Linked DNA regions of Homo sapiens: regions 1 and 2 are each linked to region 3. The links come from fine-mapping of genetic effects on plasma protein levels. Region 3 holds a variant in brackets. A gene starts in each other region. All regions are shown on their forward strands.

Region 1 (5,000 bases), not on the chromosome of region 3:
TTATGGAAGACAGTATGGAGGCTCTTAAAATATAAAAAATGGAACTACCATATGGTTCAGCCATCCCACTACTGGACATGTATCCAGAGGAAATTAAAGCAGTGTGTTAAAGAGATATCTGCACTCCCACATTTATTGCAGCACTATTCACGATAGCCAAGACAGCATCAATGTAGATGTTCATCAAAAAATTAATGGATAAAGAAAATGCAATATACATACATGATGGAATACTATTCAGACATAAAAAATAATGAAATCCTATCATTTACAACAACATGGGTGAGCCTGAAGGATATTATGTTAAATGAAATGAGGTAGGCACAGGATGACAAGTACTGCATTATCTCACTCATGTGGAATCTGAAAACGTTGATCTCATAGAAGGACGGTGCAGAATCATGGTTACAAGAAGCTTGGGTAATAGTGGGGAAGGAGGAATGAGGGAAATGTTGCTCAAGGGATATATAATTACAGTTAGATATGGGGTGTGTGTCCAGAATAGACAAATATAGAGAGACAGAAAGTAGATAATGATTGCATGTGGCCAGAAAATAGAGGGGTGAGGATAGGTGAGGCGTTGGAAAAAAAATTGGGGATGCCTGCTAGTGGGTATGGCGTTCTTTCTTGGGTGATGAAAACATTCTGAAATTGATTGTGGTGATAGTTGCACCACTCAGTGATTGTCATAAAAAACCATTGGATTGCATAACTTAAATGGTGAATTGTATTATATGTGAATAATATTTCAATAAAGCTGTTTTTAATAAAAGATACTGTAGCATGTTTGTATACTTATGGGAATAATTTAGAATGAAGAAACATATTGATGATGGAGCAAACTTTTTGAGAAAGTAAGAGGGTCATGGGCCTAATGCACAAGTGGAGAGTCTTGTCATCAACAAGATGAGGGGCAATATATTCGTGGTAGGGGAAGAGAAGGCAGTGTATGTGAATGCAGAGGTGAGTAGGTCAACAGCAACAGAAAGATGAGAGAGTTTTCTTCTGACTGCTTTTATTTTCTCAATGAAATATGAAGCAAGATTACACAATGAGAGTGAACAGAGAAGTATGAGGTGACAGGATAAGGTATGCAATAGTGATAATGGAGCAACATGGACTGTGAACATGTAGGATAATTGCCTGGCATTGCTGTTGGCTACCTGAGATTTGGGGGTCCTACACTTAAAAGGGGATAAGTCATCAGGGTTGTGCATTTAAAAAAAAATCCCATTCAGCTGTTTATGTCCAGGAGTGAAGCATGCAGAAGGGCGTGTAAACCAGGAGAGTGCTATGGGGGAAGAGAGATGAAGGTGTGCTCGAGGGAGTGTTGTGGTGGTGAGCTGCAGAATCTGAGCTGAGCACCATGAGAAGTGAGCACATGAAGTGTAGTTACTGATAATGGAAAAGTAGCCCTGGGGTAATTGAAGTCATGTTGGAAATAGAGTGCAGGAGAAAGTGAGCTAGAAACACAACTTAGTGGGGGTGGGGGATGTATGCTGAAAACAAAGGAGTGATGATAAGTTCTAAGGTTTGACTGTGGGAATGGGGAGTCAGAGAGGGATAAAAGGAAATAACGTTGGTAGTAAGAAGGGCAAGGAATTCAGAGGCCTATTTATTATACAGATTTTTCTTTTGGCAGCTGTTGAAAACACTGAGAACAAAGACAATTATTGATGGAAAGGAAGACAGACAGTGAACACTTCCTATGAGATAAAAACTGAAATGATAGTTTTCTTGAAAACTCTGGCTTTTTGAAATATCTACAACTTTTTGCCTGACTCTGAGCCCTCCGTGGAAGTGGAGATCTGAGCACCCCTGAGCATTACCTGACAGAACCTTAGTCCTAAGAAGTCCTTACAGCCCTTCAGGAAGCAGAGCCCAAGCATGATTGCATCCCATGCCCTGCTCTGAGTTGCCCAACTCACCACAGATCAACAGCAACAGCCTCGGCAGCATGAGGACCAGGTCAGGGATGGTACCTAGAGATGCCTCTCATCAAAAAAAGAATGCACCTCAGAGTCGAGCAGCAGCAGCTCATCAGAGGTTTGAGGAAGTTGATATCGGAAGTTACCCTTCAGCAGAAGTAGAAGGAAGAAGAACCCTCTAGTGACCAGTCTCCATTTCCTTTTCTATGAAGTCTGAGAAAATTAAAGATGCTCCTTTTTAAATATAGTTTGATTCAGTTCCACAAGCTGCAGATAGTACACATCAATATTTGAGGGACTTTTTCAAGAATTCAGGTATTTCAAAGGAAGTTTTCTAAAGGCAGTTTCCTACTTTGATGAGTCTCATCAGGTTATGGTCCTGCTGAAATTCATCTTTGATACATCTACAATACTTTTCACCTTTGATAGGGATGTCTCCTGGATTGTTTCTAATTGGCACATTCTTCTTGCTCAGCAATATAGTCCCACTATGCAAACTTTCTCTAGTATAGTCATATTATGCAAACATGTCATTAAATCAGGGACTGATGGGGCTGTCACCCCGGTTATGTGTAGTGTCTGACCCTTGCTGCATATGATGACTTATGTACAGGGTCAACCTATTCATACAGATATACGCTTTGATATTCAAACTTTCAGTGTACCAGTAAATGAGCATGAAATCACTGAAAAATAAAATCACGGCAAATTACAATCTGGGGGATATTTGAAAATGAAATACAGAAAAGAAGTATATGCAAATTAGCTTCAGGGCACTTGAGAAGGGTTCACCATTAGTACTAACTCTGGCATTTGTAAAATTGCCCCTCTTTTCCCTCAAAATCAGGGCACCTATAATCTCTCCCATTGCTACCTTTAGCACATTAGGGATACCAGTTCTAGGCAAGTGAAGCCTAGATTAGGGATTGGAGGAGAATAAGCTATCTTAATTTTCAACATTTCTTAAATCCGTGAGTGTCTAGGATTAAGAATAACTAGAATGTGTGGAAAGTAACCTATTAGGGGAAAGATGCTGTCAGGCAATGATGTCTAAGTCCAGGTATCCAGCTCAATGAGTATGACTGAGAAAAGAAACTATTCAGTGATACGCAAAACCAGAGGGAAAAGGGAGCAATGTTGGTAACCAGGCTAACAGCGAAAGTGCTGAAAACGAATAGGTATTCCATAGCTTTATTTATTGGCTTAGGAAAGCCTGTGTGGGGATAAGCTTGTTTAGTGTAAAGTTTCAGGACCAATGCAAAAAAATCTCCTGAATGAGAATGTAGAGCCCTTTAAATCCAGGGTGTAAAGCTGTTTTTGCATACACTCTGCTGTTTCATCTCTCTCTTTTTCTTTTAATCTGTTGGTTTTTTTAATGTTTTAATTGACACATTGTAATTGTACATATTTATGGGGCACAGTTTGACATTGCAATATAATACATATATATGTTGTACAGTGATGATCAAATCAGGGTGGTTGGCATATCCATTGTCTCGTGCAGTTTTCATTTCTATGTGGTGAGAACATTCAAAAGCCTCTTTCCTAGCTATTTTGTAATATATAATACCTTACTAGTAACCATAGTTACCCTACTGTGCAATAAAACACCAAACCTTATTCCTCCTATCGAATTGGCACCTTGTACCTGTTGACCAATCTTTCCCTCTCTTCCCTCCTCATTCCCTCCTCAGTCTCTGATAGATGCTATTCTATGCTATACTTCCATAATATCAACTTCTTATTTTTTTCAGATTCCACATATAAGTAAGTTCATGTGGTATTTGTCTTTCTGTGTCTGGCTTGGTTCACTTAACATGATGTCCTCCAGCTTCATCATGTTGTCACAAATGACAGGATTTCATTTTGTATGGCTGAATGGTATTCCGTTGTATATATACACCACATTTTCTTTATGGATTCATCTGTTGTTGGGGTCTTAGGTTGATTCTCATCACATCTCTTCCTGTGTGTCCTGCTCCAGTGCCTTCACAAGATGTTCAGATTAAAATGTGTTTCCTCCTCCACAGATATAAAGGCTATAACATTTTATTTGTTAAGCTCTCTCACACTTTTATTTTTATAATGTGATAGTTCATGCATGCATACAAAAAAGTAACATGAATATAAATTATGAAATACTACGATGAAATGAAAAGCCATGAGCCTATCCCCAGACTGTTTTAAGAACTTGAACATAAGGCGGGCGGATCACGAGGTCAGGAGATCGAGACCATCCTGGCTAACACAGTGAAACCCCGTCTCTACTAAAAAACACAAAAAATTAGCCGGGCGTGGTGGCGGGCGCCTGTAGTCCCAGCTGCGCGGGAGGCTGAGGCAGGAGAATGGCGTGAACCCGGGAGGCGGAGCTTGCAGTGAGCCGAGATCGCGCCACTGCACTCCAGCCTGGGTGACAGAGCGAGACTCCGTCTCAAAAAAAAAAAAAAAAAAAAAAAAAAAAAAAAAGAACTTGAACATAACATGATACTATTACATCTACTTGAGTGTGCCTTTTCTAACCCACTCCTCGTGTACTCTCCAGAAGTAATTACCACTCTGAATATTTTGTTTATAGTTCTCTTTCTTAAAAATCAGCTTATCGAGTTATAATTAATATACATTGAAATGAACCCATCATAAGTATATGATTCAATGATTTTTGACAAACATACACACTGATGTAAAAGCAATCACTGTCATGATCTAGAACATTTCCATCATCTCAATGGGTTTCCTTGTGTGCCTTCCCAGTCACCCCAAACCTCCCAGAACCAGGTAACTCTCCATCTGCTTTCTATAGATTTGATTTGCCTTTTCTAGAATTTCCTACAAATTGAAACATATAATATTTACTCTTTTGTTTCTAAGTTCTTTCCTTTTGCATAATATTTTTGAGATTCATCCATGTAGTATGAATAAAGCTGCTATAAACATTCATGTACAAAATTTTGGGTGACTATTCCAGGGTGGAATTATTGAATGAGAATATGCTTATGTTTTCAGGAAACTTAAATTACTTCCCTACTTGATTTTTACTATTTTACATTCCCACCAGCAGTCTGAATTCCAGTT
Region 2 (6,840 bases), not on the chromosome of region 3:
CCATTTGACCCAGCAATCCCACTTCTAGGAATTTGAACTGAAGACATGCTTCTAACAGCAGAAAAATAAATATTCACAAAGTTACTCTTTAGAGCATTAAAAACAACCAAACTGTCCATACATAGGGAGATGGTTGAATAAACTATGGCATATCCACACAGTGAAGTATTGCATGCAACTGTAAAAATGAATGAGGAATATTTGAATTTGTAGGAAATAGTGGATTCCAGCATATTTGTTAAGTTAAAAAAGAAATGTGCAAAAGAATACCTATAGCATGCTTTTAAAATGTAATAAAAAAGGAGAACTAAGAAGACAAATGTGTAGCAGCTCATTTGAGCAAAACTAAGGACAAACCAGAAACTACTGAAATTGAGTACCTATGGTGGAGAGGATAGAGGTGATGGAGAGAAGTGACATTTCCCTTTTATTGTGTCTTTTTATATCAATCTGACATTTGGGACTACGTTAATGTTTTATTTAAGCAAAAAAAAATCAAAAAGATTGAGGGGAAACTAAAATAGAATACAAAGAGAAACAAATTAACAGTATTTTGAATGAATAACAATCACACTGAAGAGGGGGAATAATCTGAGTAACTTTGGAACACAACAATGCTGTTTTTATATTTTCGGGCTATAAACAAAATAAAACTTTAAAAACGAGTAGATTTGATTTCCATCATAGTATAGAAATAGCAATTTTAAACTTCTTTCTGTGTATTCTAGGATTAAGCAAATAAGTAAATATATTGTGGATCTAGGTGTCTCACTGTTGAAGAAGGGAGTTACACATGCAGAAAGAGGGAAGGACAGAATGAACTCTATGCTAACGGACTGAAATTGGAAGAATCACTGTGAATTCATGACATATATAAATATAGATATGGGAATGGATATACATATATATATATAATACATATCCTTGCTCTGTCTGCTGAGAGGGTGCGGAAACAATGATACTCCAATAAAAATGAACACACTTAGCATCCAATTCTGGCATCTAAATGCCATTCTCTGCCAGAAAGAACCAGCATTCCTTGGAGAAACAGCAAATTCCAGTGTCAGGTCTAGAGGTGAGTCTGGAGCATTTTTTTTTGTGTGTGTGCCAGAAAGTAAGGAAGTGCTCAAAGAACAATAAGAACAAGTCAAAATGACATAGGAACTATTTTGAGGGCTCCCACTGGCCCGATCAGGGAGAATTTAAGCATCAAAATAAATAATGGTAGCCATGAATTATGACCCATTGAGTAAATAAATAAAATTCATATTGATATAGTTTATGCTGATATAGATAAATGAATAAATAAATAGAGAAGGGAAAACTTTTATTTACAGTAAAATGCCAACAGATGAATATAGAAGTAATTATTAAATTAGGAAAAAACACCCTTTGACAACCATCATAGTAAAAATTGATTCAAGAAAGGATCATCAATAGACGCTAAAATTTGTGGGTAAAAATTTGATGAAAAAATGAGGAATTTACATAGTTTTAAAGTATCTCCCTATAAAATACTTATTAATTACAAAGGGAAAAATACTGAGTCTACACTAAGAAACATGGCAGGCACCATCTTAACTAAGTGATCAAAGTTACCACCACCAGTAATAGGACAAATAGACAACATATGCCTCCCCGTAAGGATAAGACATCCTTTCTGGTATTCCTGTCAAATAATTAGATTCAATAACCTGAATCTATCATGAAGAAATGATAGACAAATCCAAATTGTGGGGTGTGATCCTGTCTCCTGACATTACCATCCACGTATACTGCCCTCCTACACTGAAAAGGGCTGATCTGTACAATCAATTGGATATTCTGGAGTTAACATATTGTGATTTCTGAGGACAGGTCACAAAGGACATTATGGCTTCTTCTTTCTTGTTCTCAGAGACGCTAGCTGGCATGTCACGAGGACACTCAACACACAAGCAGCGAGCCCTATGGCAAAATCCACGTGGTGAAGAATGAAGCTTCCAGCCAAAGGCTGGTAAGTGAGCCATCTTAGATGTGGATTCGCCTATCCCAGTTAACCCTTCAGATGACTGCACCTCCAGCTGGTGTCTTAACTGCAATCTCCTGAGCGATCCCAAGCCAGAACCACCTGACCGACCCACAGAAACTGTGAGATCATAAATGTTTATTCTTGCTTTACACCACTACCTTCAGGGTAATTTGTTATTATAATAGATAACGGACTTAAAAGTCATTCTCCAAAAATAATTGTGGTGTATTCGTCAAAAATGTAAAGGTCATGCAATACCAAAAATGCTGAGGACATTTTTCCAGAATAAAGAACTGGGGGTGGGGGGAAGGCATAATGATCAAACACAATACATGATCCTGAAATGATTCTGGACCAGGAAAAACAAAGGTTGGTTTCTATTGTTGTTATTGTTTTTACCATAACACAGGTTATTGAGATGATTGTCAAAATTTAAATACAGATGGTAGCTTATAGTCTTGTGTCAATGTTAAGTTCTTATTTTTGATCATTGCACTCTAGTTATGGAACAGAAAGTCCTTAGTGAACCATTTAGAATAGGAATAAATGCTAGATGGTTCCAAAGTAATAATTATATAATTATAATTATATAATCACATATATGTACATATATGTCTATAGAGAAAGAATAGAGAATGGTAAAGAAAATACAGCAAAATGTTAACATGCAGAGAATCTGGGTGACAAGTATATGGGAATTCTCTGCAGTACTCTTGAAACTTTTCTGTAGAGATTACTTCAAAATAAAGAACAGAGCAGAAGTGGCTGCTGTTCCTAAATTCCCTAAGTAAACTTACACTGCTTTTTCAAACTGGGAGATGAATCCACTAATAGGTTTTGAAATGAGTTTGGTGGATTTCTAATAAGAATAGGATAGCCTAGCCTAGTCTAGCATAACACAGCATGGCACAGAGGACGAACATTGTAGATTACTAAGGGTGAGTACTAACTTGTGAAAGTTTTGTTTAAGTTCTAGTAAGAGAAACAAGTGAGTGTAGTGGGTTGCGTGGTCAAAAAAGTGGGGAAGCCACCGCAACGAGGGGTGAGTCTGAGCCAAAGAGTGGCTCAGAGCTCCCCGCCCACCTCGTGCCGGGCCGTCCCTCCCGCTTGTCCCACCCTCACCGGCGCCGCGTCAGCCCCCAGGCCGCCTGCAGGTGTGCGCTCAGAACTAGCACGTGTGCCGGACACTATTTAAGGGCCCGCCTCTCCTGGCTCACAGCTGCTTGCTGCTCCAGCCTTGCCCTCCCAGAGCTGCCGGACGCTCGCGGGTCTCGGAACGCATCCCGCCGCGGGGGCTTCGGCCGTGGCATGGGCGCCGCGGGCCTGCTCGGGGTTTTCTTGGCTCTCGTCGCACCGGGGGTCCTCGGTGAGCTGGGAGGGGGAGCACGGAGGTGGGGACGCGTCCCGGGCAGGGAAAGTTTCTGTGCCGCGATGCAAAGCAGGGGGCCAAAAGCGAGACGGTGGGGGCAGTGCTCGACGCGTGTCCGCCTCCCGCTAGCTTTGAGGGACCACTGCAATAAACCGCCTGGTCCTGATTGTCCCCACTGGCCCCTCCGGGAGCTGGGACCTCCAGAATTGGAGGCTGCGCCACAGAGGGGCGCTGTCTGGTCGGCCCGGTGTGGCTGGCGGCGTGCGGGTGCTCGCGGTCTCCTGCCGGGCTCCCCGCCCCCAGGATTCTGCAGGTGCTCATCGCTCTCTGGCCGGCGGTCAGCGCTACCGCTCGCCACGGGAAACCTACCCACTGCATGAGGCACCAGCTAGCCACGTGAGGCTGTTTCTGTACACCCGAACCGCGCTCTTGCCCAGCAAAAGCGGCAGAACCTCGGCTCCCTTCCCTAAATAAGAGTAAGACCTGGTTCCCAAGCATGGGTCTCAGATTTTCTGAACTCTAATGTGATATTGGTAGAGATCCTAAACATTAACCATCCGTAGTTATTTTTGAGACATGGATTAAAACTATTGTTTTCTTCTTGTTATTAACCTACTGTAATGGTGTGGACGTCCGCAAAGGTCTCATTCACCGTTTATTATATCTTTTTTTCCTCCAGATTGGCTTGATTTTAAAGAAAGATTATAATTAAGATTAGCGTCTCTTGGCTACAGGATGGGTCTAAGTTTCTAATTATCTCCACGGTACCGTGCATTCCTAGTTTATAAGACGTTTACTGTGTGCAGACCTCAATAACTGGGTGACTTTTGGCAAGTCATTTAGCTCCCTGATCTTCAGTTTCTTCATCTGTAAAATGAAACTAGTGATTAACTGGCCTTCCACCTCACTGAGCTGCCCTGAGCACAGATGAAACTAAGCAAAGAAAGTTGGATGTTAGTCGTTACTACTAAATATCAGTAATAAGCCTCCTGTACAGACTTGATTTTATGGAGCCAGCATTTAAGCTAACAAGCTGGGTGTCCAATTGTTTCTATGGACATCCAGCTTATTGAGGTGTCTGGAATACAGCACATATTAGTTTATTACAACTTTTTGCTTTCCTGACATTTTACTGTCTCCTGACCCTTAAACCTTTCTCCAGACCATTATCTTCATCTCTTTTCTTTTTCTGCATATTAACTCCCTTTGAACAAATGTATATTCACACTTTTTCTAAGAGCAGAGTACGTCCCTGACTTCTCACCTATTTCTAAATTTCAAAGAGGATATTATCAACTGAAAATCAAATTCTTCACCAGTCCTGCCAATTCAGGGCCACAGCAGCAGCATCATGTAGGTCACTTAACTGGAGCCCCATGAAATACCAGGTCTACCTATCAGCCATTCAAGCTACTGTGCTTCTGTTGTTTGTCCATTTCTCATTTTTGTACCAGTATTCCCATCCTAAGCATTATAATTACCTGTGTAACAACCTCATCTCTTTTAAGAGATTTTGGTTCTTATGATTGGAAAGGTTAAAGAGTGACCTATAGGTCACTTTCCAATTATGAAAACAAAAAATTAAGAAATATATATATTTTCATTATTTCACTCCATTGTTCAAAAATCTAAAAGGCCTCCAGTGGAAGAAAATCTGGTGTCTTCAGCCTTTCTAGCCCTTTGGAATGGGATCTCACCGAAGCTCACACCCCCTGATTTCTCCAGCTGCCTGTCTTGTATGCGCTGCTCATGGTCTTCCCCACCTGTCTCCCATGGCTCATGCTTTGCCCACTCTCCACTGCTAACTTTTACTGCTACTGCATGCTCTCCACACATCATCTCTTGGCCAGTTCCTGCACTTGAGTGTGCTTAATAAAATACTAAAGTACCTTTATAAAATGTAGGTTCCTGGTTCCACCTCCCCCTCCAGAGGTTCATAGGTTTGGAGTTAGCACAGGAAAGCTGAGGTTTAACAATCACTCTAGAAGATTCTGCAACAAGTATCTATAGGGCACACTGCTATAAGCAAAGTCAATGGAAGCAAATTTCCTTTTTAGTGTTTTCCTATTTTTCCTTTTGTCTATTTGCATAAACAGTTTCAAATTTCCTACACTTCTAGATTTTACTCAAGCCTTCAGTGGCCACCTAACTTTATCCTATGCTGAGAAAACAAAACCATGAAACAAGAATGCTCCCATTTTCTAATCGGCTACAAACCTACCAACTTACAAACTTACCTCCATCTAGAATCAGATTTTGTTCTCCACTGCAGAAAACCTGCTGAGGCCTTCCCGTCACATTAGAATAAAACCCATACCCCTTATTCTCCAGTCTGAGGCCTTCTGCCTCTCCCTGAAATTCTCTGTACCCCACTCACTCTCTCTGCCCCAGCCACACTGGCCTTCTCTTTATTCTTTGAGCACAATTGCACTAGGTATTCTCTCTTTTGAAATGCTCTTCCTACAAATTATTCTTTGCCTGTCTCCTTGACATTCAAGGCTCAGCCCTCTGTTGTGCTTCTCTGACTCTTGTCTGAAGTATCCATATTCCAGGGTACTCTCCAATACAAAACTGTGTTCTATTTTCTACAGACCACCTATCACCATCTAAAACCTTCTTCCTTATTTATGTACCTGTTTGTTGTTTGTTCCCTCACTGGAATACAAGTTCCATGAGTGCAAGACCTTAATCTGCCTTATTTCCTGATTTGAGTTCCTATCAATAGCCTGTAATTTGGAATTCAATAAATATGAATTGAAATCTTGGTATGTTTCCTCCTATAACAATGAAAGAAGTATCCATTCTGCTGACAAATTCAGCTCCTTTTCCTGTATTCATGATCATGTTCCATACCCTCTTGCCTTTGCAAGGACTTTACTTCTGCAGATATCTCCTACCTTGCATCATCAATGTACCTCTTTCTGTATGATCATCCCCACCAGCATTTAAGTATACCCCAGGAAATCCTTTATGGACCTTCTCATGACCCACTGGAACTCCATTTTCCTGTCCCTCTTCTTGTTCTTCTCAGCAAAACTTTTCATTGACTACTTACTCAAATTTCGTTATCTCCTTCTCCACTTCAGACAGGCTTCTTCCCCACAGTCTCCTGAAGCTGTTTCTTGCAATGTCGCTACTGACCCTTATGCTGATAAATCCAATGGTCATTTTTCTATGTTAATCTTTCTCAGTCTTTCAGCAAAAACTGATGACTTCCTTTACCTTGAAACCATTATCATTCTCATCTTCCAAACCAAGACACTCTTACCTGTTTTTTCCATACTTCCCTGTTGTCTCTTAGTCTTTTTTGTTCTATCTCTAAATATTAGAGGGTCTTGGGGCTCAGCCCTGAGCCTCTTCTTTCTTCATTTCTTCTTCCTAAAAAACCTCAACTCATCTTGTCTCATGGCTTTGAATACTATTTATATGTTGATGACTCATATTTATTATCTATAGTTCT
Region 3 (6,840 bases):
GACCAAGTATAAACATGGAAGAGTAACTGCCTAAGCAGGAAAGTGTTCCATAATAGTGTGCAGACAACAAGAGAGTTCTGAGTTAATCCCTGGAACTCGACCTGGACCTTGATCTTGACTTTGAGCGAGATCTAGAACAGGATCTTGAAGTAGCTCTTTTTGGTGGAGGGGACACAGAGCGGGCCTTTCAGGGTGGACCAGGTAGCGGCGAATTGGAACGGGACTGGCTCCTTGATCTGGATTTTGACTTTGTATGACCCTTTCCATTTTCTTTGGGGGATCCGGACCGAGACCTGCTTCGATATTTCTCATACTCATCCTTAGATCTGCTTCGAGAATGTGAATGGGAGCCCCGATCAGACTTGGGCTTAGATTTGCTCTTTGATCTAGATTTCCTGCCTTTTGATCGAGAACGTGATCGACCTTTGCTCCGCGACCTGGAACGGGAGCGACTTTTTGAGACACTTCCAGATCTACTGCGGCTGCTCCTGCGACTCCTACTTCGTGACCATCTTCTAGATCGAGACCTGGATCTGCTTCCAGAGTAAGATCGCCTATGGCTTGTGCGTGGCTTATCTTCAATAAGCCTAATATTTCTGCCATTTATTTCTGTGCCATCCAGTTTGTCCAAAGCACGCTTCATGTCAGAGTAGGAGCGAAACTCAATTACACCCTCATTTGTTCCTTCCTTGTGGGCATCCGCACAGGTTACTTAACCTGCTTGTCGCATAAAATCCTTTAAATCTCTCCAACTGCACAGACTAGAAAGATTTTCTACAATAAGCCTGTATTCTGTACGAACAGGTGGTCCGTATTTGTCTCTGCCAGATGTCTCCGACTGCTGTATCCACCTCCACCACGGCGGCTTCCGTAGCTGTAGCTGTCGCGATTGCGACGCGGGCCCCGGGCGTGCTCTACGATCACGCGCTCGCCGCAGAGCTCCTCGCTGTTCAGCTCGTAAAGGGCGTCGTCGGTGTCGCGGGAGTCCTCGAACTCCACGAAGCCGTAGCCATTTTTGAGGTCTACTTCGAGGAGGCGGCCATAGCCACTGAAAAAGCGCTGGATGGCCTTCTCCTGGACGTTGTAGCTTAGGCGTCCTATGTAGACGCGCGGCATGTCCGTGGCGGGCGGGGGCCCAAGGGCTGGTTGTGGAACGGCGGACCGCAAGCCAGTAGCCGCGGTGCGGGTGCGGGGACGGCAAGAGCCCGAACACGCGCCTCACACCATAGTGGCGGCCGAGTCCAGCCACACAATGGTTAGCAACTTCTATAATTGAAAAAATTGTTGCAAAAATATAAGAATTGCTGAAATTTTGAGGTTAGTTCCTCAGGATCCACCTGCCTCAGGTGGATCACTTGAAGTCAGGAGTTCAAGACCAGCCTAGCCAACATGGGGAAATCCCATCTCTACTAAAAAAAAAATACAAAAAATTAGCCGGGTGTGGTGGCAGGCACCTGTAAATCCCAACTACTCGGGAGGCTGAGGTTGCAGTGAGCCGAGATTGTGCCACTGCACTCCAACCTGGGTGACAAAGCAAGGATCCAACTCAAAAACAAACAACAACAAAACCAAATCCCAAAATGTTTAAAGTATCTATATAAATGAAATGTTTTGGAATACTCATAGATTAAATGTCTCAATATTCATGTTTATAACTTCACTTTTCCAGAATTAATCTATGTATCTGATGTAATGCCAACAAAATCCTAGCTTTTTGGTATGGGGTAATTGAAAAAAAAAATCATTCAACAATGTATATGAAAATGCTAAGGACCTAAAATAGTGACAATTTTGAACAAGAACAAAATTAGAAAACATACAGTTTACCCTTGAGCACAAGTTTTAACTGTGTGGGACCACTTATACATGGATTTACTTCTACCTCTGCCACTTGAGACAGCAAGACCAACCCCTCGTCGTCTTCCACCTTAGCCTGCTCAACGTGAAGACGATGAGGATAAAGATCTTGATGATGATCCACTTCTACCTAATGAATAGTAAATATATTTTCTCTCCCTTATTTTCTTAATCATATTTTTTCTCTAGCTTACGTAAGAGTACAGTATCTAATACATACACAAAATATGTGTTAATTGACTATATTATTGGTAAGGCTCCTAGTCAAACGTAGGTTATTAGTAGTTAAGTTTTTGAGGTCAAAAGTTATACAATGATTCTTTATTGTGTAAGGGGTCAGTTCTCCTAACCCCCGAATTGTTCAAAGGTCAACTGTACTATCAGTTTTCATTTAAAATATTTGGTATTGTTACAATAATAAAAGCATACAACGAGACATAGTCCAAAAGACACTAACATGCATGATCATCGGATTTATCATAAATGTTCAACTGCAAAACAAGGGAGAGAGAGGAAGATGGCCTTTTCAATAAATGATGTTGAACAAATTGCTTATTTGTATGAAAAATATTTTGACCTCTACTCCATACCATAAATATTAATTTCAGATGGATCATACACATAAAATAGTAGATATGTGGAAGAGAATGTAGAAAAATATCTTTATGACCTTGAGTTAGGAAAATATTTCTTAAACTGGGCAAAAAAGCACTAATCATAAAGAAAAGTTATTATCAAAATTAAGAACTTCTGTTCATCAAAGGACATCATTTAGAGAGTGAAAAGGTAAGCTGCAGATGAGATATGTGTAATACAAACATCTAAAAAAACCCCGTCTCCAGAATATATAAAGAATCCTACAAATGAGCAAAAATCAGTTCCCAGCTAAAAAATGGCAAAAGTCTTGAACAGGTACTTCCCAAAGAAGATATTTAAAAAGCCAACACATATCGAAAGGAGGGGCTCAACAGCATTATCCACTGAG[G/A]AAGTGCAAATTAAACCCATAATGGAATAGCGGCATGCACAAGAACCAGGCCCTGGGAGCTCACCGTGCCACTGAAACTGCTCTAGTCAGGTTGGTGTGGGTCATCCCCAACCCCTTCCCCAATGGATACTTTTCAGTTCTTTTGTCATTTGAACCTGCTGACCACATTCCTCTTCTTGAGGCGTTTGCCTCTAAGGCAGGAATGGGAGGGAGGGTTTAGATGTAGTGAGGATTCGGAGGCAGAATGGAGGGACCAACAAAGTTGGCACCATGCGATGTCAACTCTGTGACAGCAGGGCTTCTTAAAGGTCTGACTCTCAAACCTTTCAGTCAGAAAGTGGCACATTAACTATCCTCAATGAGGATTGGTCTCTTAGTAATAGTTAATGTTTCACTATTAAACTTCAATCAAAAATGGCCATTTTAACCAGAATGTCAAATTGTTCATTTATGATGGAAGATAATTCACATCAGTGTCTTTCCCAATGTTAAATACATATTTACCCTGGCATCGTGAAAGGGTATTTGATCCTCTTATCCTCCCTGAAGTGTAACTCATCATGCCTTGTTCTTTTTGGATGTCAGGTCTTTGGTCTGTTAGGGCCTTCTGGTATCAGGGACACAGCTTCTGGGTTCCCATTGTTACTCTAGGCCCCTCCTAGCAGAAGTATTTCATAGTGTTCCCAGAACTTCCAAGCCCTCATTTATAGACTTGGGAGTTATTGGCTATTTTCTCTCTCTACACTTCATCATGCAAAGTTCAGAAGCTTTACACGGCCTCTTCCATAAAGACACCTGTTGTTGCCACTGTGACCTTTTCTTTGGTGGCATGTTGAAAGTGGAACTTCTTTCTGAGGCTTGAGGTCTTCTGGTCTACAGCCTGGGCACAAGTTCCAGATATTCTTGGGCACATTTTTCATCTATCTGGAATTTCTATCACCTCCTACAAATGAAACTCAGTGGGTGGTAGGAATAAGATGCTAAGTAACTTTTTTTGGAATTTAGGTAACATCAGAACCAATTTCCATGCTCTAAGATGCATGAGCACCTCTCCCCCTCATTGTATATCCAGCACTGAGGGTAGGTCCTGGCACATTGAAGGTGTCCAATAAATAAAACGCACAACGAAAATATTTTTCCTTTTAATGTAAATATTACAGGTTCATTGCAAGGAAAAAATTAACTTAAAAACACAGAAAAGAAAGTAAAAAACAAAAAATTGATGAACCACTAAAACAGAAATAACCATCATTAATTTTTTGGAGACCATCCTTTCATCTCTCTCAAAAGTTCACATAATTACATAATATTACATTTACAGTTTTATACCATAAAGGCAGCATTTACATTTTTCTGTTTTTACAGTCTCCCCTTCCCTTATCTCTACTTCTCCTTTTCTCACTCCCCTCAAGGTAATCAATATTAACAGCCTGGTGTATATTCTTCCATACCTGTCTCCATGTGCATCTAACCACACACACACACATAAACACAAAATAAATGGGTGTGATTATTTTAACAAAAATGATATATTGTATATATACATTTGTTATAAAGCAATTATTTATCAATACATTGTGGAAATACATTGAAATCAGCTAGCATAGATATAAGTCGTTTTTAAAATTACTCTCACACTGTTCCATAATATGGGTATGTCACAATTTATCTAACCAGTTCCCTATTAATGGGCATTCACTTTGTTTGCAGTTGGGGCTTTGCCCCCCTCTACAAACAGTACTTCAACAAACATGTTTATTTACATTCTTATGCATTGATGCTGCTTTTATTTCTAACGGACAGATTCCAAAAGTGAGACTGCTGGGTCTAAGAGTATATATGTTTTAAATTTTTAAACATATATTGTTGGACTGCTGGTGGAAGTATGTTACACAACCTTTAAGTAATAGTACATGGTTTCCCAAACCCCAATAGCTAGCAAAAGATCTCTTAATTTTTGCCAGATCCATGAAGGGGAAGTTTCATCTCACTGAGCATTTCAATTTGCATTTCCCTGAGTGCTTTTTAGGTTCAAAATATTTTCACAGGATAATGATCACCTACAGTTGCTCTCCTATGAAGAACCATCCAGTCCAGAGGGATTAAAGACTTAAGTGTAAAAAATAAAATCATAAAAATCTTAAAAACACATTTAGGATACTACGTATAACCTAGGGATTAAGGAGATCTCTTTTAAGTAAAATGAGTAAAATAAAAAATCTAAAAAGGAAATGATACAAATATTTTCCTATAAAAATGTTGTGCATTACTATAAAGTATAAAGACAAATGCTAGATTAAGAAAAACATCTGCTACATAATGACAAAGGATTAATATCAAAAATATATAAAAAGCACCTCCAGGTTTATAAGAAAAGACAGATAAATGAATAGAAAAATAGGCAAATACATATATAGGCAATTAACTAAAGATAATTTGTTAAATGAGTAAAGTATGAAATCTGGATGAACACTTTCATTTGTTCATTATTTTCCTCTAGTGAGAGTTTCCTTATAACTTCTAAGATTTAATATTATTAAATGATTTCCCACATAATTGCTTATAGTTTCTCTGTATACTTTCTGATAAATTCCTAATGAAGATTTTCCTATATTCATAAAATATAGTTTATAAGATTCATCTTGTGGAGTTGACATCTAGGTGAATGACTTATTGTTCTTTATATTAACTGAGTTTCTCTTTGATGTATTCTTTGATGTACAGTAAGGCTCGAACTACTCCTGAAGGCTTTTCCACATTCATTACATTTATAGGGTTTTTCTCCAGTATGCATCCTCAAGTGTACAGTAAAGTCTGAGTTAGTTCTGAAGGCTTTTCCACATTCTTCACATTTATAGGGCCTCTCCCCAGTATGAATTCTCTGATGTAGGGTTAGCTGTGATAGAGTAATACAACCCTTTCCACATTCCTTACAGGTGTAGGGTTTTTCTCCAGTGTGTGTTCTCCAATGCACTGTAAGGTAAGAACCCCTCCTGAAGGCTTTTCCACAGACATCACACTTATAGGGCTTCTCTCCACTATGGATTTTCTGATGTTCTGTGACATGTACCATCTGGCTAAATGCTTTCCCACAGTCATTACATTTAAATGGTTTCTCTCCAGTATGTGTTCTTTGATGTGTATTAAAGCCTGAGTTACTTGTGAAAACCTTTCCACATTCATTGCATTTATAGGGCTTCTCTCCAGTATGCCTTCGTTGGTGCACGGTAAGCTGTGATGTATTAGTGAAGGCTTTCTCACATTCATTACATTTATATGGTTTTTCTCCAGTATGGGTCCTCTGATGTACAATAAGGTATGATTTAGTCCTAAAGGACTTTCCACAGTCATAACATTTATAGGGTTTCACTCCAGTATGAATTTTCTGATGCTCCTTGAGATTTACCATTTTGGTGAATGCCCTCTCGCAGTCAGTACATTTATATGGTTTCTCTCCAGTGTGAATTCTCTGATGTACAGTTAAGTGTGATTTTATTCTGAAAGACTCCCCACATTCATTGCACAGATAAGGTTTCTCTTCAGTATGAATACGCTGATGTATAATTAGAGAAGAAGAACGCATGAAGGCCTTTCCACATTCAGTACATTTATAAGGTTTCTCTCCTGTATGCATTCTGTGGTGTACAGTAAGGCATGAATAATTAATGAATGCTTTCCCACATTCATTACATTTATAGGGTTTTTCTCCTGTGTGAATTCGCTGATGTTCTGTGAAATTTGCGATGCGGTTGAATGCTTTCCCACATTCATTACATTCATAGGGTTTTTCCCCAGTGTGAGTTCTTATATGTACGATAAGGCTTGAATTACTTCTATAGGCTTTTCCACATTCGTTACATCTAAAAGGTTTCTCTCCAGTATGAATCCTCTGATGCACATTAAAAATTGTGGTATTCTTAAAAGACTTCCCACACTCGTTGCACTGATATGGTTTCTCTTCAGTGTGGGTCTTCTGATGTACACTAAGATATGACTTG

Which allele goes with the higher level. Positions count from the first base shown, and alleles are read on the strand shown. Strength reflects both the effect of a copy and how common the allele is.
With allele A in place of G in region 3, the plasma level of the protein whose gene starts at base 2,042 in region 1 is higher (weak association).
In carriers of allele A in region 3, the plasma level of the protein whose gene starts at base 3,229 in region 2 tends to be higher than with G alone (weak association).

The links. PIP is the posterior inclusion probability: the model's chance that the variant is causal. The UK Biobank Pharma Proteomics Project read protein levels with antibody pairs (Olink). The fine-mapping took linkage between variants from a reference panel, not from the people measured, so its PIPs are less certain.
Region 1: it holds the start of FCRL1, and the variant in region 3 is fine-mapped to the plasma level of the FCRL1 protein (UK Biobank, PIP above 0.99).
Region 2: it holds the start of CR2, and the variant in region 3 is fine-mapped to the plasma level of the CR2 protein (UK Biobank, PIP above 0.99).

Annotation. Positions count from the first base shown.
Region 1 is chr1:157,818,079-157,823,078 of GRCh38, forward strand. FCRL1 (Fc receptor like 1) reads right to left here and starts at 2,042. Exons shown (of 11, transcript NM_052938.5): 1 at 1,929-2,042. The coding sequence starts at 1,959.
Region 2 is chr1:207,451,100-207,457,939 of GRCh38, forward strand. It overlaps CR2 (complement C3d receptor 2), which reads left to right and starts at 3,229. Exons shown (of 20, transcript NM_001006658.3): 1 at 3,229-3,377. The coding sequence starts at 3,320. RefSeq lists silencers at 3,068-3,297, 3,678-3,787.
Region 3 is chr17:16,616,766-16,623,605 of GRCh38, forward strand. ZNF624 (zinc finger protein 624) reads right to left here. Exons shown (of 6, transcript NM_020787.4): 6 at 3,969-6,840. The coding sequence ends at 5,523. It also overlaps the pseudogene SRSF6P2. Among named protein-coding and RNA genes, the nearest start is that of ZNF624, 34 kb to the right of the region's middle. The variant G/A (reference allele first, on the strand shown) is at 2,843.